Linked DNA regions of Homo sapiens. The protein of the gene in region 1 interacts with the protein of each later gene in a biochemical or structural test. Each region holds a gene or a part of one and is shown on either strand. Other genes may lie near its edges.

Region 1 (3,648 bases):
GCAGTGAGCCAAGATCGCACCACTGCACTCCAGCCTGAATGACAGAGCGAGACTTGGTCACCAAAAAAAAAAAAAAAAAAAAAGGCCGGGCGCAGTGGCTCACGTCTGTAATCCCAGCACTTCGGGAGGCTGAGGCAGGTGGATCACAAGGTCAGGAGATTGAGGCCATCCTGGCTAACATGGTGAAACCCCGTCTCTACTAAAAAAATACAAAAAATTAGCCGGGCATAGTGGCGGGCACCTGTAGTCCCAGCTACTCGGGAGGCTGAGGCAAGAGAATGGCGTGAACCTGGGAGGCGGAGCTTGCAGTGAGCCGAGATCGTGCCACTGCACTCCAGCCTGGGTGACAGAGGGAGACTCTGTCTCAAAAAAAAAAAAAAAAATTAGCCGGGTGTGGTGGTGGGTGCCTGTAGTCCCAGCCACTTGGGAGGCTGAGGCAGGAGAATCGCTTGAACCCGGGAGGCGGAGGTTGCAGCGAGCCGAGATCGTGCCACCGCACTCCAGCCTGGGCGACAGAGCAAGACTTCATCTCCAAAAAACAAAAAGTGCTGCTCCAGTGAACACAAGCCTGATAAGACAGCTGAACGGCCTTAGTACTGATAGAGAGAAAGCTGAAGTGCCGGGATGGGAAATCAAAGCGGACACATTCCCCGAAGCCAGAGCCCCAGCCTGAGCGAGGCCCTAACTCCCTTCAGTTCTACGAAGGCTGAGGGAGGTGAGGAGGCTGCAGAAGAAAAATCTGAAGCTAGCAGAAGTTGGCCCATGAAGTTCAAGGAAAGAAGCCATTTCTACCACATAAAAGTGCAAGGTGAGGCTGGGCACAATGGCTCATGCCTGTAATCCCAGCATTTTGGGAGTCAAGGCAGGAGGATCACTTGAGGCCAGGGGTTTGAGACTAGTGTGGGCAACATAGTGAGACCCCATCTCTACAAAAATAAATAAAACTAGCCAGGCATGGTGGCGTATGCCTGTAGTCCTAGCTACTCGGGAGGCTGAAGTGGGGAGGATCACTTGAGCCCAAGAGACTGAGGCTACATACAGTGAGCCAAGATCATACCACTGCACTCCAGCCTGGGCAACAGAGCAAGATGTTGTCTCAAAAAAAGAAAAAAAAAAAAGAAACACTTCTTTTTGGTTTCTGTAGAAATTAACAAGCCAATTCTAAACTCTGTAAGGGAAAGCCAAGTAACCAGAACAGGCTAAACAATTTTGAAAATGAGGAACAAAGTTCAAGGATTCCTACTACTTGATTTCAAGAATTACTATAAGGCTGGGCATGGTGGCTCACTCCTGTTACCTCAGCACTATGGGAGTCCGAAGTGGGAGGATCGCTTGAGCCCAGGAGTTCGAGACCAGCCTAGACAACATAACGAAAAACTTAGCTGGGTGTGGTGGTGCACACCTGTGGTCCCGGCTGTTCAGGAGGCTGAGGTGGAAGGATCACTTGAGCCTGGGAGGTGGAGGCTGCAGTGAGTCATGGCTGTACCACTGCACTCCAACCTGGGTGACAGACTGAGACCTTATCTCAAAAAAAAAGAAAGACGCCAGACTCAAAAGCCCACATGCTGTGCAATTCCACTTCTACCACATTCTGGACAAGGCAAAACGGCAGGAACAGAAAATAGGTCAGTGTTGCTGGGAGCTGGGGGAGAAGAGGGGGCTGACTACAGAAGGTCACAAGAGAAGCATGTCAGGTGTGGAAGAGCTGCAGCGACCACACAGCTGTGCATGAGTGGAAAACCACAGGCCCCTACACATAAGTGGGTTTGCCATGTGAAACGTGTATCTCAATAAACCTAACTTTTTTTTTTTTTTTTTTTGAGAGAGTCTCACTCTGTTGCCCAGGCTGGGGTACAGTGGTGCGATCTCCACTCACTGCAACCTCTGCGTCCTGCACGCAAGTGATTCTCATGCCTCGGCCTCCCAAGTAGCTAGGATTACAGGCACGCACCACCACGCCTGGCTTTTTTTGTATTTTTAGTAGAGATGGGGTTTTGCTGTGTGGTCAGGTTGGTCTCAAACTCCTGAGCTCAAGTGATCTGCCCACCTCAGCCTCCCAAAGTGTTGGGATTACAGGTGTGAGCCACCATGCCCGGCCTAAACCTTACTTTAAGTTAAAAAAATATACACGCACCCAGAGTCAATTCTCATTGTTTGCAGTAATTACGTTCCATAAAGTCACCACTAATACTGAACACCGTACCTCTGTTCCTACAGGAAATACAGGGTCAGGTTCCTACGAGCCTCTGGTCACAACATTTTCAGCAACCAATCAATACGCAACAGCCTTATTTTACGTTTCTGTCAAAGAACTTTATAATTATTATTGTTCTCCGACACTGAACTCACGTGGGGCAGAGCCTGTCCAACACACGTTCTCTCCATGGGACCCATCCCAGCCTGCCTGTGTCCAGGGACACTCAACAGCACTGCGGCACCTCCCCCAGGGGCATCTAAAAAGCAAAATCACCAAGAGCCCCCAAATGCAAGAAGCATGGCCCTCAGTAGATGGAGAAAGGACAATTTGCTTCCAACATGGGAGCAGTGGCAGAGGGCAGGGTGCCTCGCTCACCCCAGCAGGCACCCAAGCACCACGCAACTTGGGCTTTTAGCAGCCTGTGCGTGCCCGCAAATGACTGGGAAAGTGACATAAGTGTGAATTTTGGGGTTACACGTAAGTTTTAACAAATAGGGGATGGGGCCACAGAAGAATTGGGGGAGAACAGACACAACCCCCAAGATCATTGAGCAACAAGAGCTGTGCGGCAGGGCGGTGCCCGTGGTCCCTGCCTGTCCGGGACCCTCCAGGGCACAGCCCACTCTCCTGAGCTCACCCACAGCCAGGTCTGCCATGGTCAGAGACAGGAGACCAGGGAGCACAGAGAGGAACTTTGTCTTTTCCCTTTTGGGAACAGAGTCAAGAGAAACAGCAACAGTGGTCAGGAAAGCCCCCAGCACCCCTGCTCCAGGAGCCGGGTCTCCATGTGACAACGTCCCAAATGCTGCAGGGGTGTCCTGTATTTTTATCTGCAAAACCTGGGCACTGCTGCAAGCCTCGCGCCCGGCCCATCCTTGGGGTCATCCTCCTCCGTTGCTGTCCCCACAAAGTCCAAGAAGGATCGGAGACCAGAGCCCCAGCATCCGAGGTGCATCCGGCAGTCAAGGGATGGGGACAGCGGCCCCCAGGGGATGCAGACAGACGTTCCCTCATGCAAGTGGCCAGATGGCCCAGGCACTGTGTCTCCTGGAGGAATGGGACAGAACACGCCCCTCCCTCAGAACTGCCCTAGCCCAGCCCAGAGAACGCCACACCTCAGGGCCAGCCCCCACGTGCGCTGCGCCCTTGCTGTCCTCTGAAGGCAGGGGATGAGCCAGGGCAGAATCAGGTGTGCCCCATACCTGACTCCACCGCTGACCAACTGCACAGGCCTTGAGGCTCTTTTTTTTTTTTTTTTTTTTTGTGAGACGAAGTCTCGCTCTGTCACCCAGGCTGGAGTGCAGTGGCGTGATCTCGGCTCACTGCAACATCCATGGGCTCATTTTTAAGGTATGCTTGGTACCAGGAGCCGCTGCCGCTGCCCTGGTTTCCTCCCCTGTGACGACGCTGCTGTGAGGACAGCCTGGCAGGGCACGGACGGGAAGGGACGC
Region 2 (3,748 bases), on another chromosome or scaffold:
GCCCTGCCTTCCTCGTCCGGGCCCTTTCTCTGCCCCGGTCCCGGGCCGCAACGAGGATGGGCCGCGGTGGCTCACCGTGCACCCGCCGCGGTCCCAGTTCCCAAAGTGCGCGCGCTCTGCCCGCCCCGCTGGGCTGGGCTACGGGCTCTCGCTGGCGCTGGCGGCCTTATCAGCGCTGGAGATCGGTTTCCAACCTGCGATCTCCCTGTCCGAGCTATCTGCATTTCTCATCACAGTGAAACACCACACACACACACACACACACACACACACACACACACACACCCCAGAACCGAACATAGGCGCTCAGGGAAGGAAGGAAAAAGAAACCAGAGCACAAGCGCGGATCGGGACCTGTGGGTGGCTTTTAATACTTGAGTTGACACGATAGAAGGCGACTTTCGGAAAACAGGTCCCGTTTGCGCTGAGGGAGTTGGGTTACGGGAACCGGTTCATGCCTGTGACCCCCGCCTCGGGAGACCTCCTGAGTAGGGAAGCTCCCACAGGCCCCGCACAAGGGGTCCTGGTGGCAGTGGTCGTGTGGACAAAGGAGGTAGTGCCCGGGCGCCTACGGCTGGGCAGCGGGCGGGTTTCCGTCGTGGCCTCCTGGCAGGGCTCAGACGACCTGCCCGTCAGGCTCCGGGGAGGCGCCCCGGGGAGGAAGACCTGCGTCTGGGCCCTAACTGTGAGGCGCAAAGTTATTATTGGCATAGGGTGGGGAGGGTAGCTTCCTGTGCTCTTGCTCCCTCCTGGCACAGCCCAGAGGCCCAGGCCAGACAGTGGCCCCGACAGCTTAGTTCTCATCGCGGGGGCACTGGCAATGTGGCGGCGGGGCAGCAGCCTCTGACCGGGCAGGGAGCCGGACCAGCGAGAAACTTAGTGGCGTGCAGGGGCGACCCCGGCCCGGGGCTGCGTCCTGGGAGGCCCTTCTCTGACTCAGAGCAGCCCATTGGGATGCCAGGGGGTGCCCGCGGGCATCCGAGGGCACCATTTGTTGCCCATGCCGCCTTGGCTGGGACACTTGCAGGGTCCAGGAGGTGTCACCAGGCTGGCGGGGCCTGGGTTCAGGACTTCAGCGCTAGGGCACGGGGTGGGGGTGTCTGGGGGGCTGGAGCCAAGTGCCTAGGCTGCGGCAGCTGCGCGCTACCCCCTCCCCTGTCCTGCGGCTCTGCGACGGCACCGGTGGGGGTGGGCGCGGGCCGGTGCCTGCCACTTGGCCAGGCATCTCCGCGGCCCCGGGTGTCCCCTCTGCCTCCCAGGTCTCTCTCTTCGCTTCTAGATACAAAGCCTGGGAGAGTCAACCGCGCGAGATAAGATCACAATTTCAGCCCGTCCCGACAGAACGATCTTATCAGGACGGGACTTGCAGAATGTAATATTTTAAACTTTATCTGAGCCCAGATCGGGGCCGCCCTATCGCCGCACCATCTCGCAGATGCGGGGGAGGGGCAGGCCGCGAGGGGCCGAGCTGCCCGGGCCGCGCCCCCAAACACCCTCCTCCCGGCCTCCGGGCGGCCCCCTCCTGGGCTGAACCCCCCGGTGCCCAAGCCGAGACGCGGGGGCCCAGGCCGCCGGCGGAGATTAGATTACGGCGCGCTTGGCACAGCGCGGGGGGCGCGGCGCGGGGTGAAGGTCGCCGGCGCCCAGGGCAGAGCGGGGACGGGCGGGGGCGGCGCTGGCGGCTGGGCTCCGGCGGGGGTCGGGCGCGCGGAGGGGACCGCGGGCAAAGTTTGACTCACGCTTGATCTGCCGGGGGTTGCTCTGTTTCCGCCTGGACATGTCTCCGGCGCCGCGCGCCCTCCCGGCGGCCGCCTCTAGCCCCGGGCGGGCGGCGGCGGGCGGCGGGGGCGCGGCGGGGCCGCGGGGCCGCTCATGCCCCCGGCCCCCGGTCTCCGCGGCCGCCCCGGCCCGCGCCCCCAGCCCGCGCGCCCAGCCCCGGAGCCGCTGGAGCTGCCGCGGAGGCCCGAGAGGCCACGGTCCTGCGTTGCGGGCGCGCGGACTGCCCGACGGGCGGGTGCCGGCTCCTCCGCTCCCGCGCACTCGCCGCCGCCGCCGCGGCCGCTCGGCTTTTCTCAATGGAACCCGCGGGCGGCGAGCGGCGGAGCAGGCGGCCACTGCGAGGGCGCTCCTGGCGGGCTGGAGGCACGGGGCGGGGCCGGGCCTGAGCGTCGTCGGCCGCCGCACCTCCCGCCCCGCCCCCGGCGCTCCGGCCCCGCCCCGTGCCTCCTGCCGGGCCCTGCACCTCTCCGGCTCCGCCCCCAGCGCCGCGGCCACGCCCCCGCCAGCCCGGCTCTTCGTTGCTCTGGCTCCGCCCCCAGAGCCGCGACCGCGCCCCCGCCCGCCTCGCTCTTTACGGCGCTGGCTCCGACCCCAGCGCTGCGGCCCCGCCCCTGTCCGTCTGGGCCTTCAAGGCACTGTCCCCGCCCCGCTCGATGCCCCGCCCCTTCCTGGTTCGGCCCCGCCCGCGCCCCGGGGAGACCTCTAGCCTCCCCCACTCCTCTTTGGCCCGGAGGTCATGTCCCCAGGCCGCGCTGGGAGTCTGAGACCTATTCGGTTCTGTTCTGCTGCCCCGCGGCACCGCATCCTGCGCCCCGCCTCTCGGCGCCAGCTCCGCCTCCAAACCTGACCCGACCTGGTTGGGTCCTGAGACGCCGAGGCTCCGCCCCCGCACTGTAACTCCGCCCCCAGCCCTTGGTCCCTCCCTAGACCCCTGGGCTCTGCCGCACGCTCCACGTGCGCGGTGGGGGCAGTGACAACCGGCTCAGGAAGCCCGAGGCCTTGACGCCCACGTTTCTCTTGGGCCAGACTTGGGGTGTGGAGCGGATTCGGGCCAGGGAGGGGGCTTCCGTCCCAGACTGCGGTGGGGTCCGCCAACTGAGAGCAGGATCTCGGGTCTTCCCCTGTGAGCTCAGACCAGGCTGGAAATCGAGGAGGGGGCGCGGGAGCCGGCAGCCCTGGGCGTTGCCACTTGGGGCCTCTTTCCTCACCGAGCCTCTCCAGGGCGCCCCGCAGGAGACCCACGAAGGAGTTGCCCACAGCGCCCGGGCCACAGCCCCCTCTCGGAGCAGTCAGAGGTCAGCGAGGTTTGTGGGCGCGGTGCTGTCAGCTCAGGCCTGGAAATGGAGAACTGTTGCCCTCTGGGGTGTGTTCAAGAGCCCCACTTCACGGAGGCTCGGGGACTTGCTCAAGGTCACGCATTGGGGGGCTGTCCCCCACTCCCAGCTGAGTTGTATCATCTCCTTTTAATGTTCTCGGTCTACACTTGCTACCTGCTCCCCCATCCCCCGTACTCATAAGAAACGGGCGTCAGTGGGCCCAGGGGCAGACAGGAAGGACCCCTCCCACCTGATGATGAGATCATCGCACAGCAGGACTGTCACACCACCCGCCAGCCTGCTGGGAGCTCCTAAGACCCCATCTCGTGCCAACTTCTGTGACCTATTCCCTGGCTCCAAGGAAGGGGAGAAGTGGGGGCTTACCCTCAGAGCCTGGTACAGGAGAGTGGCGGGTGGGTAGGAGAGGCAGGGGTACAACACTGGATATGCGCCGTCCCTCCCCACTGCCATGGACAGACAGGAACACTGAGACCAGGAGGCCAAGAGAGCTGCCCAGGGGCATACGGGTCCTCCAGCCCTTCCTGCTCTCTGCCAGGGTCCAGTGGGCACAGCCTTCCCACAGCTGCTCTCTGGAGGGGGTGGGGCCCATGTCTGATTGGTTCACTCAACCTAGGACCTCCCCCCCACCCTCC
Region 3 (3,648 bases), on another chromosome or scaffold:
CATAGAGTCAACAAGGATGGGAGGAAACCCTAAAGTGGAATACAAACAAATAAATTAACCTAACTGTATTTTAAACTGATAGCACACACTGAAAATATGATGAAGGGTGAGAAAAAAGAACTAAGTTATTTTTGACTCAAGTAGTGTTTTGACCAAAAACTTAGACTAAAGACAAAAAGAAATAAAAACAAATATTGAACTTTAGTTAGTATAAATAAAAACAAATATTGAATTCTAGTTAGTATAACTGTTTCTTGCCATAGTTCAGGTCAGAAATTGTAAAAAGCTACCATGTATCCTAGGATTGACAAGTAACTCAGTACGTTGTGAATGAAGGTCTTGAAGAAGGAAGCTACAAACATGGAAAGGGCCCTAGGGTGCTGAAATGAAATTGGAGACAACAGTATTCCCTCATCTTATTTTGCTTTTTGGAGCTTATTAGAGTGTAACTGATATGCAATAACTGCTAAAGTACAGTATTTGGTAAGTTGTGACATTATGTACATACCATGAAACTATCACTACAATCAAGACAATGAACATAGCCGTCACCTGCAAAACTCATGTCCCTTTGTAATCCCACCGTCAAATACCCCATGCCCAGACAACCAATCCAATTTCTGTCATGACTGTGTGTTTTCTAGAATTTTATGCAAACGGCATCAGAGTATGTACTAATCTTACTAGTCCGAAAGTCATCCATGCTGTAGCATGTATCAATACTCTACTTCCTTTTATTGTTGATTAGTATATATATTTTTTGAGACGGAGTCTTGCTCTGTCGCACAGGCAGGAGTACAATGGTGTGATCTCGGCTCACTGCAACCTCCACTTCCCAGGTTCAAGCGATTCTCCCGCTCAGCTTCCCAAGTAGCTGGGATTCCAGACACCCACCATCATGCCTAATTTTTGTATTTTTGTAGAGATGGAGTTTCACCATGTTGTCCAGGTTGGTCTCGAACTCCTGACCTCAGGTGATTCACCCACCTCGGCCTCCCAAAGTGCTGGGATTACAGGCGTGAGCCAAGCCCCACCTGTCGACTAGTATTTGATCATATGGATATGCCATGGTTAGTTTAACTATTTACTTGTTGGTAGACATTTGATTTCTACATTTTTGGCTATTACTAATAAAGCTGCTACGAATATTCATGTACAAGCCTTCGTATGGACATATTTTTCCATTTCTCTTGGGCAAATACACACCCAGGACTGAAAAAGCTATATCACAAGGAAAGCGCATGCAACTGCCAAACTGTTTTCCAAAGTGATTGTGCCATTTTACATTCCCACCAGGCGTGTATGAGACCCAACTGCTTCACATCTTTACCAACACTTAGTATGGTCAGTCTTCTTTCATTTTAGCCATTCTAGAGGGTGTATAGTGGTATCTCGTTATGGTTCTAATTGGCATTTCCCTAATAACTAATAATATTAACAAGTTTCATATATTTATTTGCCATCTACATATCTTTCTTGGTGAAGTCTGTTCAAATTATTTGTCCATTTAAAAAATTGGGTTATACATTTTATTATTTTTTGACATGGGGTCTCGCTCTGCTGCCCAGGCTGGAGTGCAGTGGCATGATCACAGCTCACCACAGCCTCAACCTCCCAGGCTCGAGCAATCCTCCCAGCTCAGCCTCGCAAGTAGCTGGGACCACAGGTGTATGCTACCACACCCGGCTATTTTTTTTTTTATTTTTTGTAGAGATAGGATCTCACTATGTTGCCCAGGCTGGTTTTGAACTCCTAGGCTCAAGCAATCAACCCACCTCAGCCTCTCAAAGCACTGGGATTACAGGCTGAGCCACCACACCCAGCCAGTAATTTTTTATTGGGTTCCAGACATTGTGAATTTCATCTTGTTGGATGTTGGGTATTTGTATATTCCTGTAAACACTCAGGTAGGGCTGAAGCAGTGCTCACTCTAAGGCTGATCATTCCCTACTACAGAGGCAAGACCCCCTACTCTGTATCATACCCAATGCCCCATGAAATATTTTTCCAGTCTTAGCTGGTGGGAACAGGCACTATCCCTGGCCATGGGTGAGCACCAGACATGTTTCCTCTAATTCGAAAAGTTAAAGAGGAAAGGCCTTTTCACTGACCTTAAGTAGTTTTCTTGCACAATGTGCTGGTCAGTATTCAGCTGAGTGCCAGTGGAGACTCTGCAGACCTGTGGGGTTCTCTCCCTGTGCAGAGCTGTCTCCGCTATCGTCTCTTGCATGTGAATGCCAGCCACCCTGGCCTCCCCTGATGCTCAGCTCTGCCTTTTCAACAGAGGGTCTGCCTGGACTCCCATCTGGGTTCTCCCTCTTTCTGTTACAGCACGAAAATTCTCTCAAGGCAGTAGGGCAGGGCAACTGGAGAGCTCAGTTCATTTGTTTCCCATCTCTCAAGAGATCACTGCCCTTTGGTGTCTGAAAACCATTGCTTCATATGTTTTGTCATTGTTTTCATTGTTTCACATGGAAGGGTAAATGTTAATCTGCCTTTGCTGGAAGCCAAATTCATGGTTTTCACAGACATAGAGACAGGTGTATCTGTGCAATTTGTTGTGCATATATATGCACGTATGTATGTGTATATGTATGTACACAACAAACACATACACACACATACATACATCTATTTCCTGATACTATTGGCTACGAAAGCAATGACATAATAGCAGCAATGAACACTCTGAGAACCCGGATCCTAGTTCCTAAATACCATTCTCCAGGGTTCCTTGAAGAAATGGCTGATTCCAGGGCTGGCACAGAATACAAATTGAGCTCAGCATATATTAGTATGCCAAGAAGAAAGGAGGTGCTCAAAGAATGGTGGGGACATACCAGAGGGACAAAGGAGCCAGCTTGAAGGAGCTCCCACCCATGAGGCAAATCTAAGACAATACGAGCATCATAATACCCCTACTAATGGATTACAGTCATGGAAAAAAAAAGAATCCATTAGTCCACACTGATCTAAAAATAAATTAATAAATAAATAAGAGAGAAGGAAAACCTTCCTTACAATAGAATGTTAATCACCATTTGGCAACCATTGTAGTAATAACTGACTGAGGAAAGAATCATCAATAGATATTAAAACTAGTGGATAAAAGTTTGATGAGAAACAGGATATTTACACAGTCTCAAAGCATATTCCTTGAAAGCACAAATTAATTACAAAGGTAAAAATATTAACCTTAGCATTGAGAAACCTGGCAGACTCCACCTTAACCAAGTGATCTTAAAAATCAACTTGTAATAGGTCAAACCAGCATGTGTCTCCTGATAGATGCACTGAGTAAGATACGGTATCACCTCTGTGGCATTCCTACCAAAAAAAAAATGTATGCATAGATGGGTGTGTGTGTGAATGATAAAGCAAAAGCTGAAAAATGTTAATAACTTAGATAAAGGATATAGGAGAGTTCTTCGTATTATTCCAACTGATTTTTTTTTGAGACCCAACTGATTTAAGTTTGAAATTACTTCAAAATATGAAATTAACAAAAAAATTAACCATGCTAAATAAAAGTCTTTCTGAAATGCTACACATAAACCTGCCTTCTTAAACTGAGTACCATAAGCAGCAATCTTTGGTAACTCAAGGCCATCACATTGTGAACACAGTGACTGCTAAGGGATCACTAAG

The links.
Region 2: the proteins of MTA1 (region 1) and ZFPM1 are reported together in a solved structure, tested with the Homo sapiens proteins (one study listed by BioGRID).
Region 3: the proteins of MTA1 (region 1) and ERCC6 form a complex in vitro, tested with the Homo sapiens proteins (one large-scale study listed by BioGRID).

What each region holds. Positions count from the first base shown.
Region 1 is NC_000014.9:105,426,188-105,429,835, reverse strand, and holds part of MTA1 (metastasis-associated protein MTA1), read right to left. Parts: intron 1-3,648. UniProt on the Homo sapiens protein: Transcriptional coregulator which can act as both a transcriptional corepressor and coactivator. Acts as a component of the histone deacetylase NuRD complex which participates in the remodeling of chromatin.
Region 2 is NC_000016.10:88,451,670-88,455,417, reverse strand, and holds the start of ZFPM1 (zinc finger protein ZFPM1), read right to left. Parts: upstream 2,139-3,748; 5' UTR 1,780-2,138; coding exon 1,740-1,779; intron 1-1,739. UniProt on the Homo sapiens protein: Transcription regulator that plays an essential role in erythroid and megakaryocytic cell differentiation. Essential cofactor that acts via the formation of a heterodimer with transcription factors of the GATA family GATA1, GATA2 and GATA3.
Region 3 is NC_000010.11:49,466,043-49,469,690, forward strand, and holds part of ERCC6 (DNA excision repair protein ERCC-6), read right to left. Parts: intron 1-3,648. UniProt on the Homo sapiens protein: Involved in repair of DNA damage following UV irradiation, acting either in the absence of ERCC6 or synergistically with ERCC6. Involved in the regulation of gene expression.